Regions from separate parts of the Homo sapiens genome. Here region 1 is linked to region 2. Evidence: fine-mapped expression QTL. A gene starts in region 2. The other region holds a variant in brackets. All regions are shown on one strand. Distances are between the middles of the regions.

Evidence for each region.
Region 1: its variant is fine-mapped to the expression of LY6D in tibial nerve (GTEx, PIP 0.99).

Annotation. Positions count from the first base shown.
Region 1 is chr8:142,809,897-142,824,740 of GRCh38, reverse strand. No RefSeq gene overlaps it. Among named protein-coding and RNA genes, the nearest start is that of GML, 17 kb to the left of the region's middle. RefSeq lists enhancers at 8,593-9,429, 8,637-9,836. The variant C/T (reference allele first, on the strand shown) is at 6,250.
Region 2 is chr8:142,778,587-142,793,430 of GRCh38, reverse strand. LY6D (lymphocyte antigen 6 family member D) reads left to right here and starts at 6,892. Exons shown (of 3, transcript NM_003695.3): 1 at 6,892-6,966; 2 at 7,744-7,842; 3 at 7,975-8,549. The coding sequence starts at 6,915. The coding sequence ends at 8,210. RefSeq lists a silencer at 10,732-10,781.

The DNA.
Region 1 (14,844 bases), 31 kb before region 2:
GAGTTTTTAATGTATACATTTTAGCCAGAACTGGCTGAACTGTACAAGAAAAGACAATCTCTAAGTAGCCTTGAATCAGTAATACCAAAAGCAGTGAGTCTCACCTCAACACCGTGAGATAAGCAGAGTTGCCACTCGGCAGCAGCTTAGTAACAGCCGATCCAAAGCAGGCAGAGAAGAACAGAGAGAAACACATAAAGAACATTAGAATCCACCACTGGAAGGTGGAAACCTCTGGACCAGCCATTCGGGGCTGCCCCAAGGCTGCTGTACAGCAAAGCAATGAGCTGGGAAATGATGAGAAGTAGAGCTTTCCCATCCCCAGCAGAGGGCACAAGGTGGATTAGTTCAGATCACACACTGACAAACATCTTGCAAAGAGATTCCATTGTTCCAGATATACCCCAGGGCATCTAACCTTGTGGGCCGAGCCTCTAACCTGAGTTTCTAGGCGAGCATCGTTGTCTAAGCGTGACATAGGATGCCAACAGGATCCCAACCCACTCCTCTTATTGCTAGCCTCTTCCTAGCCACTTTCTTCTAGACGAAGAGTTAAATCAGGCTGTAAAATACATCATTAACTTGGGACAAGTTCAGCAGGCCATCTTCCAATATGATAATAAGATGTGACCTCAGCCGGGTCATGGAGTTTCAGATCATTTCCCTGCTAGCCCAGGTGCACAGGTCCTACTCAAGACATGGCGAAAAGGAAGCCCAGAGGCTCAGTTCACTGAGAAATGAAAGGGTCCATACCAGGTTTCCTTGGCCACTCCATCAGCTGTACAGTTGGAAGGACTTGTCTCTAGAATAAAACCTTTTGCTTCTCCTGATGGACGACAGGCCTGCTTGGAGAAAACAGTCTACTCCCATAAACCTATAGAGGACCTCAAGTATTTGTTCAAGAAGCTGCCTCTGGAAGACAGCAATAGTTAAGTAACATCCTTATATAAATGATATATACCAGGGGATATGCAGACTATCTTCAGGACCCTGGCTTGATACCCCCAACTGCACATTTCATAACCTGAACTCTCCATTCTCAATGACACCAGGGGATATGCAGACCATCATCAGGACCCTGGCTTGATACCCCCAGCTGCACAATTCATAACCTGAACCTCTCCATTCTCAATGACACCAGGGACATTCGAATTTGGGCTCCTCTTGGAATTGTTTTCCCTCGAGGCCACCCTAATAACCTCCTGTGGTCCACTGCCTGCTTTCCTTATACTTTTCCTCTGTTGGCTCAGGCCTATTCCTGCAGAGCCAATGTGTGATTCACAGGTGAATGTGCCTTGGGATCGATGGGGATAAACGGAGTAACCACAACTGCACCTCCCAACATCAGGCCACTGTCTGAGCAAGGTAAGGCCTTGGCATGGTGCCAGTGGGAATAGGCCTGACTATTGGTCTACCAGCCCCTTGGGGAGGCCTGACATGGCAGATTGGTCATGTAGTGGATCAGACTGGGCAGGCTCTAGAAGGTGTGAAGCCCTCCCTCAGTTCTCTCGATAACGTGGTGTTGGGTAACCATTGGCCCTTGATTACCTAACGGCAGAACAAGGAGGTGTATGCATAGTCACCAACACCTCCTGCCATGCTTAGATAAATACTACAGGGCAAGCAGAGGTGAACATCCAAGCAATCTACAATCAGACAATGTGGCCACACTCTCTGGTAAAGGGAGCCCAGCAGAGGAGTCAGTTCCGAATGCTGCCTCATCACCTCTCTCTCTACAAGTTGGTTTCTTCCTTCCTTAGGACCATCAGCGGCTATCCTTCTTTTGATTTTTGGACCATGCTTGTTTAACTTCCTGGGAAAACTTTTGTCTTCTAGATTGCAACAATGTTACTGACCGTGCAGTGCTTCCAGTGTGTTCCAGAAGCCCTCAGCCCTAGCAGATTGTCCCCTTAAGCTGAAAGGAGTTCCATTCCTCTCAGGTAAAGGTAAAGGATATAGGAATGACACTCGCCTCAGCAGGAAGTAGCTCCAGAAGAAGAGACCTTTGCCCAAAACCCCTTAAAATGAAGATGAAATCTCTCAGGGGGAATGAAGCAGGCTGGCTGGCTTCCTGTGGTGATCTGGCCTAGGGGAGAAAAACAAAGCCCCTTACTCAAGCTCTAGCTCACCTAACTTTCAGCCAATCAGCCCCCTGAAGCAGGGGGCTAGGGACTTCCCTGAAGCCCCACATGTGTAGTTAGACCTAAATTTCAACCTGGAGTTACCCCTTCCTCATTTTAATGCTAAAAATCACACCCAGAGGTGGAGATTTAAATTGCTAATGCCACATGCCATGTATGAAGAAACATGCCAGCCACTGCATCAGTGCTAGAAAAACACCCCCTCTACACACCTACCTTGCTGGGAGAAAATGGAATCCAGGCCAAGAGCAAACCCCAGCCAAAGATGTGCAGCCTCCAACCAGGCACAGGCATGAGGTAGCCAGGCAGGGGCACAGATGGTGTCTGTGGGCATGGTTTCATTAGATCTGCATGAGTATTGCCAAGGTTGGCTGCCCAGGGCCCCTGTGGTAAGGAGGAGGACGATGACATGGACGGCAACCAAAGACCTCACACTGGGAGAGCACAGCCAGGCTTAGGAGCAGGATTCTGTTTCGATGCTCATCAGTAGGTCTTCTAAGCTGCCTGGGACTACGGGAAGCATGTTTTCCGTGCAGGAGCCATTTCCCACCATCTCAGGCCCACATTCTTACCACCCCCATGGCCCCCAGGCTGTGTGCCCTTAAGCTGCTGGCCCTGTGGATGCCAGTCAAGGCCACTGTGGCAAATACCCAGCACAGTGTCCAGCATGTAGGAAGTAAATGAATACTTGCCGAGCAAATGAATACATGAATGCTTTACCTTACACAACCTCATACAGGCTGTAGTGTGGAAGCCTTACCTGCTTCCTGCCTGCAACCCCAGAGACCTGCCAGGGTCCCAGTGTTAGGACAAGCCCCAGCCCACATGCCAGCCCAGCCTCTGCGGCAGAATCAGCAAGGTGGTGCTTTCCACAGACATTCCAGCCTCCAGAGGCGTCTACAGGCCCCCTGGGCCCAAAGGCTCACAGAGCCCTCTAAGCACCGGGCTCTGGGCTGAGTCCTGCAAGCTCAGGGAAAGCGCTTCCCTTCTGCTGAGTGGACTCAGCACATTGGGGGTGGCCTTCCACTGCGAGAGGTGGAGCAATGGGACCTGAGGCCACTGGCATGTGTCCACTGAGGAGCGGCCTGCCTTCTCCCTCGCTGACTGGGTGGGGAGCCTGAGCTCACAGATGCAGAGCTCTGGAAATAGAGACCCTCAGAGCCATGCTGGTGATGCCACCCGAGGGCCTCCTCAACGCCGGCCCCTGCTGGCATCCTCCAAGCTGCAGGAGGAAGAGATCCAAGGGTAATCTCATACCTGCTTGACCCGCTTTGTCCCCAGCCGATGCCCTCTCCCAACCTGGCAAAGGGGTATGAACTCAACATCTAGGCCCAGCAGAGGAGCTCCACACCCCCGCAGGTATGACCTTGCCTGTCCCTTTGCTCTCCCAGGTCCTAGTAAGGCTCTGCACCTGGACTGGGCAGGAACGGCCTTCTGCAGGCTGGCCTTGCTGGATGGCCCTGCACCCTCCCTCTGGGCTCCTGCACCCTACGCTGCTGCCCCCACCTGGGCTGTAAACCCTGCCCCTTGTGTCTCAGCCATCCCTTCTGACCGACCTTGCTGTGGGCAGGCTCTCACGGGGTCCTTCTGCACATACAGGATTTGGCCCAGCCCCGGCATAGGGCCCAGCCAGCCTGTCTATGACATGGGGCAGGGGGGAGGGGAGGGAATGAATGAATGGCTGAACCAAGGACCCACCATGGGCAGGACTAAGCTGTAGGGAGGCAGCACTGCCCTGCTTCTAGGGATCTTAGGCTCCAGAGTCAGGTGCAGAGCCTGCAGGGCGTCTTGGCTTCTGACCCTAAGGGATGCAGGCGTGGCCTTCCCTTCATGGGTGAGGTTGTATCTGGAAGATAAAGCAGAGGTTTGCAGGGTGGGCCCTAAGAAGGCCATCGGGGAGGCTGGGCACCGGTCCAGCTTGCACCTAGGGACACGACAGCTCCACACCCACTTATCCCCAAAGCCAAAAGAACCCCAGGAATTCAGGGACAAGAGGGCTCTGGGTGGAGTCACGGGAGGCTTCCTGGAGGAGGCAGAGGAGAGAATCTGAGGAGAGGGTAGAATGAGGGAGACCTGCAGGCAGGGCACAGCCAGTGGCAGTGGCAGGCGCCTGAGCTTGGCCAGCATCCAGGCATGGGTGCTGTGGGACTCACTGTGATAGGAGTGTGCTCTGGTTACCTGTGAGCCAGGCTTTCCTGGGGGTGGGCTGTGGAAATGCCCGGAGGGGTTCCAAGGCCCATGAGGGCTGGAGGCTGGGGTAGGCAGGCTTTGCGGCGTGAGCTGGTGAAGAGGCACCCCTGCCAAGATACTCACCGCTCCACACTACCTCCTGCCTCAGTTTCCCCAAGGTGCTCAGGACAGGAAGCACAACTGCTCAGAAGAAAGCCCTCCTGAGGTGGTCCCTCTGTGAGCAGACGTGCTGTCCGGCAGACCACATCCTGCCCTCAGGGCCCTTGGCAGACAGGGCCGGCTCTCCACCTGGCAGACCCACCCAGGTACCCACTCGCCAGCCCTGGGTCACACCCTTGGTCCAGGGGGTGTGCGCCCGGCCTCCCCTAGATGTTTTGGCCTTGCCTACAGAGGTCGCAGTCCCTTCGGGAAACTCCTGAATTTGTCGCAACTGGGTAGAGTCCATCTCTGTACTCTCCTCCCACCAGTGGGCAGCATCCCACCTCTACCCCTTCGGTGAGTCGTGCCTCTGGCCCTTCGGTGAGTTGTGGCCATGGTCCAGCTGCCCGTGTGGCCAGCGACGGTCATTCAGCAATGGCGACGGCTGTGTCTGAGGGTCCCACAGAAGTGTGAGGGGGGATGCCACTCCAGGGGTCGCCAGCAGGCAGCAAGTGTGGGTGGCCTCACAGAGCCTGTTCCGTTTAGGAAATTCTCTCCAGAATACTCCTGGAGAGGCCGCAACACCCACCCCAGCTCTTAGCCACGTCCTCCTCCTGCCCATCTCCCCCAGGGCTTCCCCTAGCCAACCTGTACGACTCCTGTCTCCTGGCCCAGGAGGCAGCTGGGGTCTCTGGGGACAGCCTGATGGGCTCTGCCTTACCCTCCCCAGGCCTGTGAGGGGCACGGGGACTGTCCTGGCCCACCCTGGGCTGTGCCACGGTTCCCAAGACTGTGCAGCCTCTGTGGCTGCCTGCTTCCCTCAAGGGTCTTTCTTAGCTGGGCTACAGGGAACAGGACACTTAGCCGTTTGCTTCCCAGAAGCCCAGCAGAGGCTTGGGGGCCCAGCGCTGTCGGCAGCCTCCTCCTCAGTACAACTGCCCCTTGGGACCCAGCCCCTCTCAGTTCTCCCACCCCTTCTCGCTCCCAAACTGCGCAGCTCTTGGCACCCCCTTCTTACCACCCCCAGCACTTGGCAAACACTTCTAGAGGAGGCCTTTGCTAAAAGGAGTCTGGGCCATGGGTCGGCACGGCCCTGTGGCGTCCATCAGAGCAGCCCTGGCTGTGGGCTCCTCTCCCTCTTGCTGCAGGGTCACTGACTTCTAGGCGTCTGGAGTGAGGGTCTCCAGGGAGGTCATGCCCTGGCAGGCCAGAAATTGGGAGCCTCATGAGGGCCTCTGAGAGGGCTGAGTGATTCGCTCAGGCCCCACATCCACAGGGGCGGACTTAGACTTGAATCCACTGCCCTGGGCTTCACCAGGCAGATCCCCTTCCGGGAGCGAGAGCCCCGCCCCAAGGCTGAGCCAATGAACTCAGGATCTGAGTGGACCTTGGGACCTGCCCTCCAGACTTGGGCCTTCAAATGTTTCAAACACTTTCCAGCCTATGGGCTCTCATTTCACCAACAGAGCCTCCCCAGCTGGCCAGTAGAGCAGGCAGCATTAGCCTATTTTTCAGGCAAAGTGAGCCGTGGAGAAGAGTGGAAGATGGGAGATGGGCCAGATCTGAAGCCTGTGGGCCCCAGAACCACCGAGACCTCAAGGGTGCCTCCTGCTAGTCAGGTCCCCAGGAGGACCCAGCATGGCCAGGTTGCAGGTTACTCTCTGATGATGTTCGTCGTCCCCGTGGTCTGCTGGGCCCCGTCACAGCCCCCACAGCGTGCCAGGGCCTGTGAGCTGTGCTACACTGTTTTAGATGTGTTTGCTGGGTGCTGGGAGTGGTA[C/T]GAAGAGGGTGCTGAGAGCTGCGCAGTTTGGGAAGGAGAAGGAGAGGCGAGCAGAGGCCGGTGGGGTGGTCCCATCCTGCAGGTGAGGAAACTCGAGGTCCTGCCCAGCATTGGGGAGCAGTGGGCAGGCAGCAGAGGAGGCCTGGTGCAAGCCGGCCAGCCACAGACCTCCTCCGCCCCATCCTCCCCGGCTCCGCGGCTCCCTGGGCCCGGGTCCCTCTTGCCCCCATCTTCCTAGGTGACTTGGATCAGGCCCTCACAGCCAACACTTCCTTTTCACAGCACCGTCCCCCTGTTTCTCTGGGGTTTTCCTTGGTCCCAGGACTCTGCCAGACACACACATGCCCCTTTAATTCTGGGGACAACTTAGGGCTGGAGGGATCATGATTCCCACTTCATGGAAAAAGAATGTTAAGGAGAGGAAGGAGATGGCCATGCAGCCCACACTGCAAAACCTGGTCTGCCAGAGCCCAGAGCCAGGCACCTCAGCACACAGTGTGGTCGTGGCAGGGGAGCCACAGGTCCTACCCTCCTCCTGCCTGGTCCACCGAATCTGACTCCCCGAAGCCGCTGGGCCTCCCTGGCCCTGCTCTTGATGAGAGGCAGCGGAGCAGCTAAGCTCTGGAATGGCCCTCATCTCCCCTCCGGAGGCAGGACAGCTTCCTCCCTCCCTCCTACACCAGCCTCGGTCAGTCGCGGGGGAAGCGCCGGGGGGCTGGACCAAGCCTGGTGCACTCTGGGGTTGGTGTGTGAGTGCAGTCCAAACAGTGTGCAGGTGTGTGCACAAGTGTATGTGTGCTTACAGGTGTGTTCACATGCAAATGTGAGTGTGAATGTGACTGTATGTGAGTAAATGTAAATGTGTGTGTGAGTAAATGTAAATGTGTGTGTGTGCAAATGTTTGAGAGTGAATGTCAGTGCATGTGTGAAAGAGGATGTGTTATGTGTGAGTGCACATGTGAGCCAGTGTGTGTCACTGATGTGAGTGTGCTTGTGTGTGTACGTGTGTGAGTAGATGTACGTATGAATATGCTTGTGTGAGTGCTTGTCCGAGTGTGAGTGTACTGTATGAATGCACTGTGTGAGTGTGCGTGTGCGGGAATGTACCTGTGTGCATGTGTATGTCTGTATTGTGAATGTGTGTGAATGTGCATGTGAGTGCAGTCTGTGTGTGTGTTGTGTGTGAGTGCGTGTGTGTGTCTGTGTATTGTGTGTGAGTGCACATCAGTAAGTGTGCATATGTGTGCACATGTATGCATATGCTTGTGAGTGCATGTCTGTGTGTGAGTGTGCATGTGTGGGAGTGTGTGTACATGTGTGCATGTGCTTGTGTAAGTAACGTCTATGTGTGTGAATGTGTGTCTGTGTGTATTTTGTGTGAATGTGTGCGTGTGTACATGTGTGGGTATGTGTGTACGTGTGTCCCTGTGCTTGTGTGTGAGTACACGTCTGTGTGTCTTGTGTATGTGAGTGATTTTGTGTGTGTGAGTGTATTTTGTGTGTGTGTGAGTGTGTGTGTATCGTATATGTGTGTGAGACAGGAAGAGGTGCAGGGCTGAGGCCGGGGGCGTCTGCAGAGCAGATGGGGGCTGTCTTGTAGAGGGGCTTTGGGTGTACTGGATTCTGTTGTTCACACCAGATGCCAAGGCAGGACTCTATGTGCAAGAACATTTTGCCAGAAAAGCCTGTGAAGGATGAGAGGGAACAGGAGTGGGAGGCGAGAGCTGTGGGACTCCGCATAGCTCTGACAGTTGCGGAAGGAGGGGGCCTCCTGGATGGCGGGGCCATTTTGAGATGTCGGCTGGCCTCAGAGACATCCCAGCCAAAGCTGCCCTAATAGGAGGCCACAGAGGAGCAGCCCCCGCCATGCCTCATCACTGGCTGGGAGCACCATGGGGCTGGCAGGTGGGGCCAGCTCCTCTCCGCTGAAGGACCCCGAGGGTGCACTGCCGGGGCTGCCCAGCGGGGGTGCTGGTGGTTCAGTTATGAGTTTGGCTCCGTTCCCACCCTCTGCTTGGCTTCAGATGCAACTCTGCAAGCCACATTTCCACTTTGCCAGCAGGGGCTGCAAGAGGGAGCCTGAGTGATGGTGACGTGGAGGCTGTCCCTGGGCACCGCTTTAAACAGGGCAAGTCATCTATCTCACGGCCAGGCTCTGCTCGGGGGGGTGCTGAATTTCCACCCCACTTCGCGGGCAGAGAACTTCAAGACAGTGTGTTCGGAGATGGAAGCCCTTGCGGGTGTTGCCTGGCTGGTGAGCTCCTAATGACCCTTCCCGGGCCACCTCCAGTGCCCCCAGCTGTAGGCCCTGCAGGAGCAAGGCATGGCTCAGCCCCAGTCTGCAGGGAAGGCAAACTGAGCTGTCCCGGGTGAGCCCTGCAGCCTGCTGGGAGCTGAGACAGAAGCCTAGACACCCTTGTTTATCCAGTTTGCCACCTCCTTGCTCCTGGAAAATACCAGCCACACCCCACGCTCAGGAACACAGGCATCCTTGCATCCTGGCTCCTGGCTGACCAGATCAGCTGGAAACATGTGCACCCAGCCTGCCTGGGAACCCAGAGTGAATCATCTGTGTCCTCCACCTCCCCGCCCCAGTCTCTGCTCCCAAAGGAGCCAGCACAGCTCAGGGAGGGACCAGCCTGGACATGCCTGGGCAAGCATTCATGGTGCAGCTGTGTGCCACACTCAGTGAGCCTGGAGCCCAGAGGCTGGGATCCTTCAAAATGGGTTTCCAAAAGCTGGTGTACTCCCTGCTCCAGGAGGCCAGAGGCAGCAGGGAGAAAGGGGTTGCAGGGCAAGGTTCTGGGTGGGAAGGAAAGAGGGAAAGAAGCAGGATGGCCAAGAGCAGGTGCTGGGGCACCTTGCAATGCCCAGCTTTTTCCCGGTGCCTCCCGGCTCATGCCCCTTTAAGAGCCCCATCAGCCTGAGCCCCCAGCTGCTCTCTGATCCCTTTGTGAAGTGCTCTGTGTCTCTGAGCAAACTGGCATTCCTTTGCTTCCCCCAAACTCTGTTCCTAGATCTTAATACATCTTCCAATCACTATGACCAGGGCCAGGGCTGAGAATGTGAGCCATGGCAACCCGAAATAATAGAAAGGATCAGAATCCAGTCTAAATTTATTCAAGTGCAAAGCTAAGAATGACCATCCAGGTAACACAGACCCTAGAAGAATGAGGTCAGTGCTCCGAAGCTGGAAAGTTAAGGTCTTGCTTTTCTAGACAGATAAAACAAAGACATTTAACAGGCTTATGTTTTTTTTTTCGTACAAGGCCAGTTTATGAGATACAGCAATTTGATTACAACTTGTTTTCCTTTTCCAGTTTAAAAGTATATTTAACATTCCATCTTAGACAACGTGATAGTCGTGAAGTCTTTGTCTGGGAGAAGTAAAAGGGAAGTCAGTGTATAAAGAGATCAACAGTGAAGAGGGAAAGTGGTCTTCTTTGGCACCCTGTTGTCTTTTACAACATACTGCACAATGATGCAGGTAAAGAAGAGGCTAATCTATAATGAGAAGAACAAAGGTTACAGCTGCCTGTTTACATGATTCAGGTCTTATAGTCACACTCCTTTAAGTCTCAAAATAATTTAAAGTTCCAACAGCTTTGATTTCGAATTACTTAATTTTTACAGCAAGATCAGCATTAATTTATGTCCAGAGTCAGGTCACAGTGTGGGGTCACATTCAGGACTCAGCCTGTGACCACAGTCAGAGATCAATGTGTGTCCAGAGTCATATATAGTGTGACAGCATGACCCAAAGTGTGGGAATGGGTCTCAGTATGTGATCAGAATCCAGGCTCAGTGTCAGATCAGGGCTCAGTGTGTGACCAGGATCGGGGCTCAATATATATCCAGGATCAGGGCTCAATGTATGTCCAGAGTCAAAACAGAGTGGAAGCACGATCAGGGCTCAGTGTGTAGCCAGGGTCAGACCTAAGTGTGTGTCTAGGGTCAGGGCTCAGGGTGTGACCAGGGTCTAGGTGCAAGCCATGCCTGTGAGAACGTCTACTGTGCAATGATGATTGAAGGGCGTGACCTGTGGCCTTAGCTTCATTATCTTGGCATTTTATCTCCTGAGACAAGCTATTCGCAGGTCTTCTTCAGGTTACCAAAGACAGAATGTTACTGCCTGCATGGCAAACAAGACCCAAGATGTGGTCTTCTGGGGACCAGGAGAACAGCTGCTCTAAGCATGTGGCCTAGGAAGTGTGGCGATTGCCCTGAAGAGCTCTGCCAGCCACACAAACCCCACCATCGAGCCCCTCACTTCTATAGGCATTGCCACATTTTTTATAGAAGCTTATTACTTTTATAATTGTTTTAGATTTACAGAAAAGTTGCCAAAGATAGTACAGACAGTTCCTATATTCCCCACACCCAGATATCCTTATTGCTATCTTCTCCTTCTCCTTCTTTTTCTTCTTCTTCGACAAGGTCTCACTCTGTTGCCCAGGCTGGAGTGCAGTGGTGCAATCACAGCTCACTGCAGCCTCAACCTCCTGGGCTCAAGTGATCCTCCCGCCTCAGCTTGCCAAGTGGTTGGGACTACAGGCATGCACCCCCATGCCTGGCTAATTTGCCATTTTTTTGTAGAGATGGGATCTCACTATGTTGCCCAGGCTTGTCTCAAACTCCTGGGCTCAAGTAATCTTCCCACCTCAGCCACCCAAAGTGCTGGGATAATGGGCGTGAGCCACCTCACCCAGCCGAAATCCCTATTTCAACATCTTATATTCCTGTGGTCCATTTGTCACAATTAATGAACCAATATTGACCCATTATTATGAGCTGAATCCACACTTGATTCAGATTGGCTTCATTCTCCCCTAATGTCTTTTTCTCATCTATTACCCTCCAAGAGCCTGTGTGGTACATACTCATGTTTACAGAGGCTCCTCTGGGCGGTGACAGTTTCTCAGACTTGCCTTGTTTTTCGTGACCTCGACAGTTTTCAGAGGTACTGGTTGAATATTTTGTGGCGTGTCTCTCAATTTGCCTGGTGTTTTCCTGGTGGTTAGACTGGGATGGTCGTTTTGAGAAGACTGAAGCAGAAGTGAATCACTGTTTCTGTCACCACATCAACAGTAGGCACTGACACTGGGATTCACCACTGTTGATGCTGACCTTGACCACTTCCATGGTGTTGTATCTGCCAGGCTTCTCTCCTACCAGGAGAAGCCTGTTTTTTCCCCGATACGGTTTCACTGTGTCCCCACCCAAATCACATCTTGAATTCCCACATGTTGTGGGAGGTGCCTGGAGGGAGGTGATTGAATCATGGGGGCAGGTCTTTCCCATGCTGCTCTCATGATAGTGAATAAGTCTCATGAAATCTGGTGGTTTTAAAAATGGGAGTTTCCCTGCGCAAGGTCTTTCTCTTTGCCTGCTGCCATCCCTGTAAGACATGACTTGCTCCTCCTTGCCTTCTGCCATGATTATGAGCCCTTCCCAGCCACGTGGAACTGTAAGTCCATTAAACTTCTTTCTTTTGTAAATTGCCCAGTCTCTGGTATGCCTTCTAAGCAGCGTGAAAACACACTCATACATTCCCCCACCCTATTTCCATGCTGTCATGGTTGGAAGGAAGTCACTAAGTGCAGCCACATCTGAGGAGTGGCAATTTAAGCTCCACCTTTTCAAGCAAAGTATCTATGTAAATTATTTGGAATTCTTATGCAGAAGATTGGTCTTTTCTTTCCAATATCCTTCTTTCTTCAATCATTTATTGATATCATTATGGACTTGTAAACATTTATTTTATGCACAGGAGTATAATCCAATACTGTTATTTATTTTGCTGCTCAAATTGTTCCAGCTCTGGCCATTGGAAGGGTTTTCAGCTGCCTGATCTATTCCTTTCACAGTCCGCATCATTTTGGGTCTTTTTTTTAGGATTTTCTTCTTTTCTGGCCCCACATGGTCTTCCACAACCCAAATGTCCTTCAACTGATGAACCGATAGACAAATGTGCTCTATCCACATGGAGTACATTCCGTGGAATCAAGCACTGACATAGGCAACAAGGCAGTGAGCCTTGAGAACTTGGTGCTCAGGGACAGAAGCCAGACACAGAGGCCACATAGTATATGATCCCCTTTGCATGACAAGTGCAGAACAGACAAATTCACACGGAGGCAAAGTGAAGCAGGGGTTGCCAGGGGCTGGGAGCAGGGAAGCTGGCACTGACGGCTGATGGGCACAGGTTTCTTTTCGGAGTAAAAACATCCCAAAATTAGATTGTGGTGATGGTTGCACAACCCTGCAACTATGCAGTACTGAAACCACTGAACTGTTCACTTTAAATGGGTGAGTTTCATGAAATGAATTATATCTCAATAAAGAAGTTTGGTTTTGGTTTTGTTTTGTTTTTAAAGGTACTTTGGCTGGGCGCAGTGGCTCGCGCCTGTAATCCCAGCAATTTGGGAGGCCGAGGCAGGTGGATCACGAGGTCAGGAGATCGAGACCATCCTGGCTAACACGGTGAAACCCCATCTCTACTAAAAATACAAAAAATTATCTGGGCGTGGTGGCAGGCGCCTGTAGTCCCAGCTACTCGGGAGGCTGAGGCAGGAGAATGGCGTGAACCCGGGAGGCAGAGCTTGTAGTGAGCTGAGATCACGCCACTGCACTCCAGCCTGGGTGACAGAGCATGACTCCGTCTCAAAAAAAAAACAAAAAAAAACTACTTCAGGCTCATCTTGTGTTCCCGCATTCCATCCCTAGAATCAGCCCTTTCTCCAAGTAGTGCTCATTCCTGTGAGTGAAGAAGGATGTCAGGAGTCAAGATACGGGTGCTGGGTGGGCACTGCTGGTTGCTGGCTGGGTTTTGGGCCTCCCCATCCACCGCTAAGCCCACCCCAGAGCAGCCTTCTGTGCTGGTCAGCATTGCTGTCACTCTTTTTCTTCAGACAACCAATTGCAGGCTTGGAGAGATTGAGGGGCTGGCCCAACACCCCACAGCATGGGCATGAGTGGGGCTGAGACCTGAACTGGGGCTGGTGGGTGTAGATACCTTTCAAGGTGGCCCCATCTCTCCCTGCGGAAGGAACTGGGATTCCTTGCGTCCTCTCTCTGGTTCGAGCCCAGGCCGTGAACTCCCGAGTGACCCCACATTCCCCTGGCACAGGGGCCCTCATGGGGCACATGGGCACGGGAGCCCCACGCCAGCATCTGAGTCCCCAGCACAGCTCCTTTCCTGCGCTTGCTGCCGGCTTAGGGGCCTTAGTTGAAATCCTGACTCCTCCACCTGCACCCGGACTCAGTTTTCCCTGTGTGAATTGGGCAGGGAGGTGGCACTGGCTACACTCCCAGGATCCTCCTCTACTCGGACAAGCTCATGCCACTAGGGCACCACTTGGGCCTCACCCACTCTGGGCCAGTGACTGGGGGGCCCCAGAGGGCGTAAGGGGCCCTGGGCAGCCTCAAGGAGGTGTTGTGGGGCTCTGCAGGCATCAGGTGGAGGAGGAGTGGCCCGAGTGGGCCTTGAGCTGTGATCTATGAAGCGCTTCCTCACTGTGAGGCCAGGACAGGGATGCCCTCCGCCCATTGGTTAGAGGACAGGACAGGGATGCCCTCCGCCTGTTGGCTAGAGGACAGGACAGGGATGCCCTCCGCCATTGGCTAGAGGACAGGACAGGGATGCCCTCCGCCCATTGGCTAGAGGCTGCTATGAGGTGAATGCAGGTTTCCAGCTACCGAACTGGGCATGAAGAGAACAAGGTCCTGAAAATCTCTAGAGACTCAGTGTGGCTGGCATGTGCCCACTGCAATTCTGGGGCCTGGGTCTAATGCCCCTCCAGCCCCTGCCCCCTGCACTGGCTAGAGAGAGGCAAGGCTGAGAGAAAGGGAAGGATGGAAGGAGGGAAAAAGGGAGGGGTGGAGGGAAAGAAAGAGGGAGGAAAAGAGGGGGGGGTGGAGAGAGGGAAAGAGAGAGAGAAAGAGGGAGGGGTGGAGGGAGGCGTGAAGGGAAGGAAAGAAAAATGAGTGGTTGGAGGGGTGAAGGGAGGGAATAGGGTGGAGGAAGGGAAGGAGGAAGGAGGGCAGAGAAAACTGGAGGGTGGGAAAGAGAGAGGGGTGGAGGGAGGGCTGGAGGGAGGGAAGGGCTTTCAGAGGGAGGGAGCGGGAGCAGGACTCATCCACTGGTTCACTCAGAGGTCTAGGGCTCCTAACCGGGGTCCCAGGTCCCTTCCTGTAGGCGGGATCGAGCTCCTCCGGGCTGGCAGGTTCCTTGCTGGGATGTAGCTCCTGTGGAACCTCACCCGTGCCCCTGTTCCTTCACCTGCCCTGCTCATCCCTGAGTCCCCTCTCAGCCACCCTAGGGAGTTGAGTCTAATGCCAGGCTGGGGAGGCCCCATTAATTATGGCCCTGAGAGAAAGCCTGGGCTGTATTTGGAGAACACCTAGCTTATAAAAGACTCGGACTCGGCTTGTAAAATGCCTGATTAGCTTAAAGAGGAATGGCCCAAGCCTTCCCCCAGGCAGAGGAAGCCAGGGCAGCTGGCAGTAGGGCAGCTGGCAGTGGGCGGCAAGGCTTCATTCCAACGCCCACCCCCAGCCCAGCCCAGGGCAGCCCCTGCCCTCAGCTCTTCCCTC
Region 2 (14,844 bases):
GCCCCAAAGCTGCTATGACCTGCTGCAGACCCAAGGGTCTCGGAACCCTTGCCAGGATGGACTCCTTGGCCTTTGAGAATTACTGTTTTGTCAGGGGCAGGTGTGGGTGAATAGAAAAGGAAGAGCGGGGAGAGAGACAGAGAGACATCATTCTAACTAACTCCTAGAGGACACATAAGTGGTATAAGGGCAGTGCCCACTGGTGGGAACACTGAGTTGGGGACAGGCCCTGGAGGGACAAAGCCACTGCAGACCACCAAGTAACCCTTGCCTGAGAAGCGCGGAAGGCTGGTCCGAGGTCTTGCTAGGACTTCCCGTGAGGGAGCTGGTCTGCACTGACTCATGGTGGGGAGTCCTTTGGTGGGACAGGAACTCCTACAGGGCAAGGGAGGACCACAGGCAGAGTAAGAAGAAGAATGCCTGTCCTGAGGACAGGAGAGCAGGAGTGAAACAGCCCACCTATCAGGAGACCCTCTGGAAGGATGCACTCAATATCTTGGGGATTTTCCTTACGACTAAGGGAAAGGTCACACTGCGCCATCAGCACTAAATTCATCCCATGTCTCCCAAGGTGGTCAAAATGTCTGACTCACTTGCCCAGAGGAGGCAGGATGGATGGAGGTTGAATGAATGGATCGCTGAATGGAGGATGGATGGATGGAGCATGGATGGATGAGTGGGTGAATGGATGAATGGAGGATGGATACAGGATGGATGGATGGAGAATGAATGGATGAGTGAATGGATCAGTGGAGGATGAATGATGGCTGGATGGATGATGGATGGATGAGTAGATGGATGGATGAATGATGAATGGATGGAGGACAGATGGGTGAGTGGGTGGATGGATGGAGGATGGATGATGGGTGAATGGAAGATGGATAGATGAGTAGATGGATGGATGGAAGATGGAGAACGGATGGATGAAGTGTAGATGGAAGGAGGATGGATGGATGGAAGGTGAACGGATGAGTGGATGGATGGATGGATGACGGATGGGTAGATGAGTGGATGGATGGATGGGTGGACAAATGGTAGATTTTTTTATTATTATTATACTTTAAGTTTTAGGGTACATGTGCACAACGTGCAGGTTTGTTACATACGTATACATGTGCCATGTTGGTGTGCTGCACCCATTAACTTGTCATTTAGCATTAGGTATATCTCCTAATGCTATCCCTCCCCCCTCTCCCCACCCCACAATAGTCCCCGGTGTGTGATGTTCCCCTTCCTGTGTCCATGTGTTCTCATTGTTCCATTCCCACCTATGAGTGAGAATATGTGGTGTTTGGTTTTTTGTCCTTGCGATAGTTTGCTGAGAATGATGTTTCCAGCTTCATCCATGTCCCTGCAAAGGACAGGAACTCATCATTTTTTATGGCTGCATAGTATTCCATGGTGTATATGTCAAATGGTAGATTGATTGATGGATGACTGGATGGATGGAGGATGGATGATGAGTGGATGGAGAATGGATGGATGAGTAGATAGATGGATGGATGGATGATGAATGGATGGAGGACAGATGGGTGAGTGGGTGGATGGATGGAGGATGGATGATCAGTGAATGGAAGATGAATGGATGAGAAGATGGATGGATGGAGGCTGGATGGATGGAAGATGGAGGATGGATGGATGGAGGATGGATGGATGAAGGCTGGATGGATGGAAGGTGGGCAGATGAGTGGATGGATGGATGGATGGGTGGACAAATGGTAGATTGATTGATGGATGACTGGATGGATGGAGGATGGATGATGAGTGGATGGAGAATGGATGGATGAGTCGATGGATGGATAAGTGAATGAATGGATGGGTAGACAGATGGTAGATTGATTGCTGGATGAGGGATGAATAGATGGATGGAGAATAGACAGATGAGTGGATGGATAGATGGGTGGGTGGATGAGTGGAGAATGAGTGGGCAGATGGTAGATGGATGGATGCATGGATGGATGGAGGATAGAGGATGGATGAGCAGGTATGTATTGGGAGCAAATGAAGGCAGGGGAGTGGGGGAGGAAAGTGAGGTGGGCCCTGTGCTCACCAGCCTTGAACCTACCTCATGGAGCTAAGGGTTGGCAGCCACAAGTTCCAGGCCACAACAGGAAGTAGACTGAGCTGTGGCCTAGCAGAGGGGAGAACCCAGGAGTTCAGCATTAACACAAACCCTCTGACATTCCCTAGAATGCTGGTGGGAGCATGTCCTAATGTGTGAAAATAACCCCCGTCCAGGGCACCTGATTCTCATCCAGGTTCCTTAGGTCTTGCAATTCTAGGGTTCTGTGTTCTGCAAGCCCATGCTAACAGCCTGCAGTCTTGGGACTCTGAGGTCCCCACAGTTGTTTGCGCTATGGTTCCGTGGCTCCAGGGCTGCACTCTGCTGCAACCTCTCTCCCCCTACCACAGGCTGGACACAGTTCACACCCTGAGGGATTCTCCCTCATCGCCCAGACTTTGGCACTGGGCACCCTTGACTAGCCCCCTGAATGCCAGCGCTTCGCAGGGACCATGCCGGTCCTAGGTGCTGAAATGGTGCCTCTCCCAGGGAAGGTGCCAGCCCCGCCTGTGGGCACCACCAGCCAGGCCTGGGAACAGGTTTGTTTCTCTTGGGCCTTAGGAACCTAGAGCCCCAGTCCAGCCTTTGCTGGGAACAAGCTGTGCCCCAAGGTAGAAGGGTTTCTCCATCCACGAAACTGCTCCCTAGATTGCCCCCCTGGCAGTGCAGGAAAGAGAGACCTGGCAAGGATGAGGGGCCTGTGTGGAGGGGCAGAGCTGGCCTCCATCCCCGGCCCCTGGCCCGGCCCGGCCCGGCCCATGGACACTAGGTGTACCCTGGGAGGGGTGGCTGGTAGCCAGGGTCCCAGGGGGTGACCTAAGACTAGGGCAGGGCCAGGCTTGGCCCTGGGAAGCAGGTGAAAGAGACTTTGCCTGAGATTGTGGTGCTATGTGTAAAGGTGACTCCGGCACTAGAAAGAGGAGTGGGGAGGCCAGGTGTGAGGGAAGAGCCCAGGCCCAGAGGCCCAGCCCAGCTGTGGCTCCCGCTTGCTGGGTGATGCCGGGCAAGGCCGGGCCCTTGCTGTCCATCTGAGGCCCCATCTGTGCAGGTGAGGGGGCTGAGAGGATCAGGGCAGCCTCTAGAAAGACACCACACACTCAGCCGCTCAGCTTGGGGCAGCCACCTGCCCCTGCGGGGGAAAGAGACAGAAAAGCGGCCTGGCACCTGGGCCCCAATGCCCTTGCCCGACACCCACCTGCTTACCAGGTAATGGCCACACACCCTTCCCTGCTTAGACAGCTCCAACAAGGTTGGTCCTCCCTTGGCTTCTCAGCCCCAGATCCTCACCCTCCACATCATCACACCCCTGCTGTGGGTCCCACAGAGGCAGCAATTGTCTGTTCCCACTCCCTACTGGTCTGCAGGCCCTGGGACCTGGGCCCTGTCTCTCTTCTCTCCTGGTTTCCATTATATCCAAAGTGCCTTGCATATGGTTGGTCCTTATAAAATGTTGAAGAATGAATGAATGAATGAGTGAGTGAATGAATGAATGAATGGAGTGCCTCAAGGCAGACGGATGCATTTTGGAACCCCTGGGGTGTGGCTGGGATTCTGGCTTGCCCAGGTAACAGCCTGAGGGTGAAGAAGCCCTTCCTTGTGCCCTGGGGCTTCCCAGCTCCTCCAGCCCAGGCAGCTCCTCCAGCCCAGGCAGCTCCTCCAGCCCGCGGCCCCGCCTTGTCCACCGGGCACCCACTCAGTCAGCTCCTCCAGGCCAGGGCCCTGACTTGTCCACCAGGCACCCACTCAGCCAGCTCCTCCAGCCCAGGGCCCCGCCTTGTCCACCGGGCACCCACTCAGCCAGCTTCTCCAGCCCGGGGCCCCGCCTTGTCCACCAGGCACCCATTCAGCCAGGACAGGGCCCAGGGCTGGGCTGGTGCAAGCCTGGAGTACGGTGCTGTGCCGCCCTAAGCCAGGCGCTTCCCTCTCTGAGCCACCACACCCTTGTGTGTTCCTAGGGGCCCAGCATAAGGTAGAGGGGGCAGAAGGTGGGGGAAGGGGCATGAGCAAGGAACTTCGGCTCCAGACAGAAGCCTGGGCTTGTCCCCGTGCCGGGTTTCCTGGTTCAGGGAGCAGGGGGCAAGGCTAACGGGGTGGGGCGGTGGTTTTCCCTGCCCCAGGCCCCTTCGTCGCCTCTCCCAGGTGTCATTTCTGCTGCCAATACCCTGATGGTACCAACCAGGCCCAGGGCCCCAGCTCCAGGGGCTGAGTGGGAGGGGTGGAGTGGGGGAGGGCCCAGGCCCTAGAGAACAGAGGAGGGAGGAGGGGGGAAAGGCTGGCGGTGATAGTGAGAAGTGCTTGAGACCCCACCAGGTTCTGCCCCAGAACGTGCCTGGAGCTCTCTGGCCCTCACTTCCTCACCAGTGAACAAGCACTGGGCAGGGACTGACATGAGGGGCCACAGTGTCTCCTCTCCACATTCCAATCCCTGGCTCTGAGGCTCTAGTCAGGTCACTGCCTACAAGAAACCCTCCCTGACTGCACTGTCCCCAGAAGCTCAGCTGTCCAAGGGCTCCTGGCATCAGAAGCACCCGCTTTCTCCTGAAAGTGAACTGTGTAGGGCTGCTGTTCATGCTTTTGCTAGGACCACCTGGGATGGGCAGCTCATCCTCGTGGGCAGCCCTGCCAGGTCAGAGGCCCTCATCCCACAAAACTGGAACCCCGCTCCGGCTCCCATGCCTGGCAGGGACGCAGCCACAGTGATGCCTGAGGTGTCCCACGGGGGTGAGCCAGGTGTGCAGGGCCCTCCTCCAGCCCCAGGTGTGGGGAGCACACTCCCCCATGGCCCCACACTCAGAACCCACTCTCAGGCCACCTGACATCCCGGACCCTCCAGCTCCACCAGACCCAGCAGGAATTCCAAACCTGTTTTTCCAGCAGCTCTCATGCCCCTGGCCACAGTGAGTCACCCTCCCCACCTGCCATGCCCACCGAGTCATCACCCCGCCACCAAGCCCTGAGCTCTGCCTCCCAAGGCCCCTGGAAGCACCTTCCCCCAAGCTGCCCATGCCTCTCACTGTGACCCATGGACACAGGGCCTTGGAGCTGGAGGAAACCTCCTCTCTCTGGGTGGGGGCATGGACCTTTGGGTCACCTGCCTTGGCAAGTGAGACTACACACGTCCCCACCAAGCTCCAGCCAGGGCCAGGCACCAGATGCAAATGTGGGGCTGCCCCAGGGGGCTCCCGCCTGCACCCTGGTTTCTAAAGGCACCACCAGGCAACCCCTCCTGTAGGTGGATCCTCCAGGCCCCGGCACTGTGTCAGGGAGAGCCCGGCCAGGAGCATTCTCAGGAGACATTTGCTGGGATCCCCGGCATCTGAGACGTGGGGCTCAGCAAGGGAGAGATGCCGGGAGGAAGGGCCAGAGGGTCTGTCTCAAGCCCAGGCCTGACTGGCCCCAGTACCCACGGTGCTCCCAAAAGCCTCAGCCCAGCCCAGGACCACCCTCCTCGGAACCGGCCCTGCCCTGCCCTGGGCCTGTTGTTGTCTGTTCATCAGCCACGTGGCAGCGGCGGCAGGAGGCTGGGCCCAGGGCTGACCTCCATCTGTGCCCCGGCTCCCACTCACCTTCAGCCTAGCCAGGGCAGGGGCAAAGCAAGTCTGTGGGCCCCTCCACACCACTCAGGTGGGTGCTGCCCAGCACAGGCGAGCGGCAGAGCGTGCTGGGCTGAGCAGGTGGATGGGGGCCCCAAGAGGTGGGCTCCTGCGCGAGGCGGTGGGTGCTCAGAGACCCCGTCTCCAGGGAAAGAAAGTCCCTCCTGTGAGTATAAAGAGGGTGAAGGCGGGGACTGGCCTCCACTCAACGGGCAGCAGACCAAGAACCTGCTTTGAGGCCCTGGGTGCTGGGGCCCAGCCCCAAAGAGTTCACGATTTTGGGGAGACTGGAGCCGGGACACCTAGAGCAATAGTTACAAAGTGGCCGGGATGGCGCTGCCCCCAACGTAGCAGGAGGGGCCTGGAGAGTGGGGGAAGGAATCCCACGGGGAGGGCTTCTGGGGCCCTGGAGGGCGGGAGGCAGGGCTGGTGGAGACCAGGAGGGCTCAGTCTCTCCCTGCACAACGCAGGGTGGAGTTGCTGCCTCCACAGCCCGGGCCTTCTGCCCACAGGGCTCCCCAGGCAACTTCGAGGGCCGGGTCCTCACAGTCCTCACTCTGTCCAGTGCTCACCTCACTGCTGCCCCAGCTGCCCTCCCTGCCTCGGAGTGGCCTCTGCCTCTGCCTCTGCCTCACACACCCCATCAGCCCACAGCCACCCCGAGCCCTTGCAGCTCAAGGACCTTCTGCATCCCCGGCAGCAACCCTGAGCCCAGAGCCAGGAGAGTAGGACCAGCACCTGCCCTTCCTACCTCCCCTGCCCTGGACACCCACGGGCACCCACAGGGCACCGGGCACAGGCTGCAACTCTATTGAGGGAACTATGGGGGGAATGCAGGGACAAAGACACAGGATGGTGATGGATGGTGGGGGGTGGGGGGCGGGGGGTAGCGGGTGGCAGGTCAGAGACAAAGTGACCCAGGAACGGACGGCAGCGAGAGAACAAGACCCACAGAGACAGAGAAGTGAAAGTGGGAGAGATGGAGGCACAGCAGCAGGAACAGCAGGGCCAGGAGGCCACTGGGCCCCGTTGCGGAGGGCAGACCTCTGCCTGGCGGGGGGCAGCAGGGGCAGCGCCCAGCGACAGCCAGGCTGGTGGGCGTGGGCCAGGCAGGGTGGGGCAGGTGCCCGTCCTGGGCTGACGCTTGCACAGAGCCCTGCAGAATGCCGCTGGCTGGCGGACTGCCCACCCCCGCCCAGCCCGTGCCTATAAGGCCTTGGCAATGCAGGGGCCCGCACTGCTCCCAGACGACATCAGAGATGAGGACAGCATTGCTGCTCCTTGCAGCCCTGGCTGTGGCTACAGGGCCAGGTGAGGGGCTGGGCCAAGGGGACGGGCGGGTGGGCGGCTGTGGCCTGTGTGGTCACCAAATACTAGGAGCCTGGAGCTGACGACATCTAGGCACAGAGAACCCCGACACTGTGGGTGCTAGACTCTTCAAATTTAAAACAACATGGAGCCCGAATCTTAACGAGTGTCAGATTTACAATGTTTCAGAATCTGAGGATCTTAGAACTGACTCCTGGAGTCACGGACCCTGAGAGAGTGGAGCAGGGGGTTGTCTTGAGATGCTTCTCACTGGGAGAGCGGCCATCTAGTCCCTGCCACCAGCCCCTCCCGGTCCCCAGGTCTCCCCCAGCACAGCCCAGGACAGCCCAAAGGCCACCAAGCCCTTCCTGTCATAGGCTCAGAGCAGCCAAGCTGGCTGCCCCCGGGGCCTTAGCTCCGTCAGGCCCTCAGAAACATAGCCATCTCCTCCAGGGACATCCCCTGGGGTGGGGACAAGAGCCAGTGTCCTCTTGGCAGTCGCAGAGCTCCCTGAGACCTTGGAGGAAAGGCTTGCAACACACCCTAGACAGGGGCAGGGCAGGACACCTCTTCCAAGCCGGCCCAGGCTGGAATACATGTCCCCTGAGGCTGCACTCAGGGCACATGCCCTGCCAGGACCCAGAGCCCGGGTTTGGGGGCCTAGGGCAAGGGCAGCAGGGCCTCTGTCCAGGAGGGGTCTCTGCAGGTGGGGGAGCAGGCCCTGCTGAGTCACCAGGAGGCCTCTGTTGGGCCCGCTGAGCCGGACTCCCTCCCCGCCAGCCCTTACCCTGCGCTGCCACGTGTGCACCAGCTCCAGCAACTGCAAGCATTCTGTGGTCTGCCCGGCCAGCTCTCGCTTCTGCAAGACCACGAACACAGGTGGGTAGCATCTGTCCAGGTGTCCCTGGGGCTGGGGGACATCCCTGGCTGTTGTGGGTGTTGGCTGGAAGGTTGTGGGGAGGTGGGGGGCAGAGGTGGCTGCCTGGCCTGACCACACTCACCTGTGCCCAGTGGAGCCTCTGAGGGGGAATCTGGTGAAGAAGGACTGTGCGGAGTCGTGCACACCCAGCTACACCCTGCAAGGCCAGGTCAGCAGCGGCACCAGCTCCACCCAGTGCTGCCAGGAGGACCTGTGCAATGAGAAGCTGCACAACGCTGCACCCACCCGCACCGCCCTCGCCCACAGTGCCCTCAGCCTGGGGCTGGCCCTGAGCCTCCTGGCCGTCATCTTAGCCCCCAGCCTGTGACCTTCCCCCCAGGGAAGGCCCCTCATGCCTTTCCTTCCCTTTCTCTGGGGATTCCACACCTCTCTTCCCCAGCCGCAACGGGGGTGCCAGGAGCCCCAGGCTGAGGGCTTCCCCGAAAGTCTGGGACCAGGTCCAGGTGGGCATGGAATGCTGATGACTTGGAGCAGGCCCCACAGACCCCACAGAGGATGAAGCCACCCCACAGAGGATGCAGCCCCCAGCTGCATGGAAGGTGGAGGACAGAAGCCCTGTGGATCCCCGGATTTCACACTCCTTCTGTTTTGTTGCCGTTTATTTTTGTACTCAAATCTCTACATGGAGATAAATGATTTAAACCAGTGTGGCTGTGGCTGTGCTATTCTGGGACGGAGGAGCTGAGGGGCGGATATCAGGCCACATAGGTACCCTGAGCCTCCAGCACATGTCCCCTGGGGCCAGTCGTGGGGTGATGCCTGAGGTGGCACCGTCCGTCCCCACCCTGGAAGGGGCAGGCTGCTCAGATGCCTCCCACCGCCCCAGAGGTGGAGGGCACTCCTGGGGTGAGGCCTGAGTAGGAGCACAGGGTAAGAGGGCTCGCAGGCCCCTCCCACACATAGCACCTAGGGGAGAAGGAACCCCTCAGCCTTTCACCCCGGGTCATGTCTCTGAGACCGGGGTTCAGGAGCCTCCAGAGAGGCCGGCTTGGGACACCCCAGGCCCAACCCCAGCTTTGGAGCCAAGTAGGCACTGACTACCTACAGCCATCGCCAAGGCAAGTCCAGCTGCCCAGGGAAAGTTCAGCCACCATCCAGGAAAGTCCCATGGACCCTATCTATGGGAACCCAGCAGCCCCTTGGCCAGACCTCACCAGGGTGAAGCTAGACTGGGCGGGGAGTATGACGCAGGGAATATGGGCCAGATGAGGTCGCCCAGAGGCAGGGAGGGTTCCGCACCCACTGCGTGGGTTCTGGTATTTCGGGGATGAGGTTGGGACGTGCAGTGAGATGAGGCCCCCGGCAGATGCCCCAGCAAGGGGCCCTTCCACTTCTGGAGAGGGCCAGAGGCTCCTGCAGGCTGACCACATGTCCCCGGCATGGGAAGTCTCAGGCCTCACCAGGGTCAGAGCAGAGCTCTGCCTTCCCCCAGGCCAGCTCCCTCGCAGGCCTGGCCTGGAAATTCCGTGGTGGCAGAGCCCCCTCCGGCCGCGGCCAGCAGACGGTGGCGTAGCGTGGGTGGCAGCTGGTGAGGGGTCAGTGGTGCTCCCTGGCCCTGGGTCCAGGCATTCAGCTCTTTGTCCCACACACCATGAGACCAGCACCATCACCACCCCCAGTTCCAGCTGAGGGGCTGGGGGCGAGTGGGGTGCTGGATGGTTACTGGAGGTGAAGCGTGATTTGGGAAGGCCTGCTCTTACCACCTGTCCATCCTGCCTCCCCTGGGACCCAGGGCCACTGTGCAACCCCCTCCTGGAGGGCTGCCTGCCCAGCCAAGGCACCGCGACCCAGGACTGGGTCTGGGTGAGCTTCACTGTCTCCACCTTGGGATCACCCTTCTCCACACCCAAGGCCCATCTCCCCAGGGCGGCCAAGGTGGGTCACTCCTTGCCCTGACTGAGAGACCTTAGGCAAAGCACTCCACCTCCGGGAGCCTCCATTTTCCTCCACTGGGCACCCACCTGGTGCAGCCAGCACCCCACATGCTGCCTGTGACTAAATGGTGGCCCTGGCCCTCAGCCCCCCTCCCAGCCACTGCAGGGCTGCAGGCATTTCCGTGCGCTCCTGGGGCCTCAGACCCCACCTAGTGCTCCTGCCCTTGGCTGGAACTGGGGGTGGTAATGCTGCTGGTCTCATGGTGCGTGGGACAAAGAGCTGAGTGCCTGGACCCAGGGCCAGGGAGCACCACTGACCCCTCACCAGCTGCCACCCATGCTACACCACTGTCTGCTGGCCGGGGCCGGAGGGGGCTCGGTCACCATAAGTTTTCCAGGCCAGACCTGTGAGGGAGCTGCCCTGGGGGAAGGCAGAGCTCTGCTCTGACCCAGGTGAGGCCTGAGACTTCCCATGCCGGGGGCGTGGGGTCAGCCTGCAGGAGCCTCTGGCCCTCTCCAGAAGGGGAAGGGCCCCTTGCTGGGGCATCTGCCGGGGGCCTCATCTCACTCCACGTCACAGCCTCATCCCCGAAATACCAGAACCCACGCAGTGGGTGCGGAACCCTCCCTGCCTCTGGGCGACCTCACCTGGCCCATATTCCCTGCGTCATGCTCCCCGCCCCCTCCAGTCCAGCTTCACCCTGGTGAGGTCTGGCCAAGGGGCTGCTGGGTTCCCATGGATGGGGATGGGCCCAGGCAGCTGGACTTGCCCTGGGTGGTGGCTGTGGGTAGTCAGTGTCCACATGGCTCCGAGGCTGGGGTTGGGCCTGGGGTGTTCCAAGCCGGCCTCTCTGGAGGCTCTTGAACCCCAGTCTCAGGGACATGACCCAGGGTGAAGGGGTGAGGGCGCCCCTTCTCCCCTGAGTGCTGGCATGTGGGAGGGGCCTGCGAGTGCTCCTGGAGGTCTGAGTATGAGCGCCCTCTGGTGGCCACCGGAGAGCCGGGTGCCGGGGCTCCTGCACAGGGAAAATCCGCCTTCGCCCAGGCCAGTGCCGCTCATGGCCCCATCTGTGCCCTTTTCCACTCCACTCTGGACAGGTGGCCTGAGGCCTGCCAAGCGCCCAGGGCAGGGTGTGCGAAGGCACCTGGGCATGGGAGTCGGGCAGAGAGCAGAGGGGTAGGAGTGCCTAGGCCGCAGGCCCACCCATCCCCACTTCCGTATGGGGAAACTAAGGCTGGGCAAGGGAAAGTGACTCCTGCCACTTCACGGCAGGCTGGCTGCAGGAATCCTCATCCAGGGCCCAGGGAACGGGAGTGCTCTGTGTCCAGTGCAGCCTGGAGGCAGGCGGGAATGCCACCTCCCCTACCACTCCCACCCCTGAAAGGCAGGAAACGGGGGCTGTGGCCACCAAACTCCAGGAATGAAGGAAGAGGGAGTTCTGCTGGTGGGTCAGGGAAGACTGCAAAGCAGCAGCAGGTACAGGGACAACGAAGGCAGCATGGATGAGGCTGCGTGCGGGCCCTGGGCAAAGGCCCAGGAGTGGGAGCGAACCTGCAGGATCCAGAGAGGGCTAGGCTGCCCATGTGGCTGCAATGGGGCCTGGGAGCTGGCAGGACTCCAGACCAAGCCCAAGGACAGTCACAGCTCATAGCCCATCACTGCCCTCTGCCCTGTGCCTCCAGGGGTCCCTAGCTCAGTCTCCCAGCCTCCAGGCTGCTTCTCTGTGACCCTGCTGGACAGCTCCTCAACTGTCCTGGACACAACCTGACCCCAGCCCCAGCCCCAGCCAAGACTCTGTCAGGCATCTTCAGTCCCACACAGGGCCTGCAACCTTGTAGGTGTGGACAGCGCAGCTGGCCAGAGGGGGCCGACAGCCCTGCCCCCATGTCCTGAGTGCCCCTGAAGGAGGAGCTCCCTCTGCCAGAGCCCAAGCTCAGAACTTGCAGGGAGATGCTTAGGCATAGGATTGAGTGGTGGGGCCCCAAGGCACAGCCACTGAGGTTTGGCCAGCACCCAGGGGTGGGGCACTGTCCCTGTCATGGGGTGCATGGCTGACTCTCCTGGCCCATCACCGGATGCAATTTTCTCTATGCCTTAAAAATGGAAATGCTAAAAGCAGTCAAAGCACAATGTCCAGACAGAGGGCAGCTGTCAGGGAGACTGTGCAAAAGCAACTGACCAGGTCCTCTGAAAAGGGATCCTCCCTCCACCTGCTCGGAACTTCTGCTCTCCTCACCGTCCAGTCGGGCCTGAGCTCCCACCCGGCCCCCTCTGGCCAGCTGCGCTGTCCCCACCTACAAGGTTGCAGGCCCTGTGTGGGGCTGATGACGCCTGACAGCATCTTGGCTGAAAGGCCAGGTGGGAGAAAGAAAGGAGCATTATTCAGTCAGATCAGGGGGGCCCAAGAGCCTCCCTTAACGCCCAGTCTCGACAGCCAGATCCCACGGAGGGCTGGAGGGGCAGCCCCAGCCGCCCACTCCACTGGCCAGCCCCCAACTCAGAGGCAGCTAGCTTTGGTTTGCAAGAGGTCCTTTCTCTGGTCCTGCCATGGACAAGCCGGACTGGGGAGGGTTGTTGAGGTCCTCCTCCTGGAGGGGCATTCTCAAACATTGCTCTCATTGATTTTTCTCTATCTTCTTTTTCTACCTCACTTTTTTTTTTTTTTTTTTTTGCTTTTATTTTTGCTATTTTCTTCATTTTGCTTACCTTGGGTTTGATTTGCTCTTTTTGTTCTGGTTTCCGAGGGTGAAAGTTTAGGTGGTTTTTTTTGGAGAACTTCTTTCTCTTCCAAAAGAAGTTTTAGCTCTTTTTTTTCTAAAAGAAGCATTAGTGCAAAATTTCCCTCCAGGGCCCACTTCAGCTGCATCCTTTGACTTTGATGAATTGTGTTTGCATTTTCATTCAGTTGGAAATATTTTCTGATTTCCTTTTTGGTTTCTCCTTTGACCTATAAGTTGTTTAGAAATATGTTATTACTCAGTTTCTAAATATTTGATGATCTTTTAGATATATTTCTGTTATTGATTTCTAATTTAGCTCCATTGTAGTCCAAGCAAATAATCTGCATGATTTTAATCCGTATAAATTTACTGAGATTTGTTCTATGGCCCAGAATACAGTCTGCCTTGGAGGACATTATTGGTAAATAAAGGTGTGTTCCCCTTCTGTGAGGTGGAGTGTCCTACAAACATCAAGTTGGTCATGTTGACTGGTAATGTGATCCACGTCTTCATCCTTACAGACTTTTTGTCTATTTTTTATCAGTTCTCGAAAGAGGAGTGTTGAAATCTCTGTTATTGTGGATTTTCTTTTTCTCCTTTCAGTTCTATCAGATGTTGTTTGTTTTGCTTTGTGTATTTTGAAGCTTAATTGTTAGGTGCATACATATTTAGAACTGCTGAGTCCTCTTCATGAACTGATCAATTTATCATTTGGTAATGTCCCTCTTTTTAAATTTTTTTTCTTTCTTTCTAGTACAGATAGTGTTTTGCTGTTTTGCCCTGGCTGGTCTCAAACTCCTGGCCTCAAGCAATCCTCCCACCTCAGCCTCCCAAAGTGCTGGGATTGCAGATGAGAGCCACTACACCTGGCCAGTAATGCTCCTCTTTATTTCTGATTATAGTCTTTGCTTTAAACCTACTTTGATATTGACGTAGTCATGTCTGTGTTCTTTTAATTGGTGTTAGCATAGTATATCTCTCTCCATCTTTTTACTTTTATCTTATTTGTGTTTTTACATGTCTGGTGAGTTTCCCACTGACAGCATATACTTGGCTGTTTCTATTTTTATCCAATCTGACAACCTCTGTTTTTAATTGAGATGTTTTTGTTTGTTTTTGAGGCAGAGTCTCACTCACTCTGTCGCTCAGGCTGGAGTGCAGTGGCACCATCTCAGCTTACTGCAACCTCTGCCTCCCAGGTTCAAGCAATTCTCCTGCCTCAGCCTCCCAAGTAGCTGGGATTACAGGCACCCACCGCCATGCCCAGCTAATTTTTGTATTTTTTAGTAGAGAGGGAGTTTCACCATGTTGGCCAGGCTGGTCTGGAACTCCTGACTTCAAGTGATCCACCTTCCTCAGCCTTTCAAAGTGTTGGGATTACAGGTTAGGATTACAGGTGTGAGCCACCGTGCTCAGCCTGATTGAAGTGTTTAGATGACATAGTGTCATTATTGCTGTGGCTGGGTTTAAATATATGTCATCTTGCTATTTGTTTTCTATTTGTCTCATTGTTTTTTCCTTTCTCCTCTTCTGCAGTCTCTGTAACATGTGCTTTTATAAATAAATAATTCTGTATCATCACTTTTGTTGATTTATTAACTACAGTGCTTTGACTTTTGCTTTTTTCTTTGTCTTTTTTTAGTGACACTTTAGCGTCTTAGCATACACCTTTGACTTACTAGTCTACCTCCAAGAAATAGTAGGCCACTTCACATAGAGTAGAATAAATCTACAACAGTGAACTTCCATTGTCCCTCTCCTGGTCTATTTGTATTACTATTTTTTTTTAAATTTATTTGACACAGCGTCTTGCTCTATCACCCAGGCTTCAGTGCAGTAGCGTGATCACAGCTCACTGCAACCTCCACCTCCTGGGTTCAAGTGATTCTCCCACCTCAGCCTCCTGGGTGCAACCTCAGGTGTGCACCACCACACCCAGCTAATTTTTTGGTATTTTTTTTTTTTTAGAGATGAGGTCTCTCTACGTTGCCCAGCCAAGCCTGGTCTTGAACTCCTGGGCTCAAGCGATCCACTCGCCTCAGCCTCCCAAAGTGCTGGGATTACAGGCGTGAGCCGCGGTGCCCAGCCTGCACTACTATTATCATACAATTTACTTCTACATTTGCTATAAATTCCTTAATACATTGTTATTATTTTTGCTTTAGGTAATCAACTATCTTTTAACTTGATTCAAAAATAAGAAAAAAATTACCTTCTATTTCCTATTTCTGGTGTCATTTATTCCTTTGTGTAGATCCGTATTTCTGCCTGAAGAACTTCCTTTAACATAAAGGTCCCCAACCCCTGGGTCACAGACCGGTTAGGAACCACGCCACACAGCAGGAG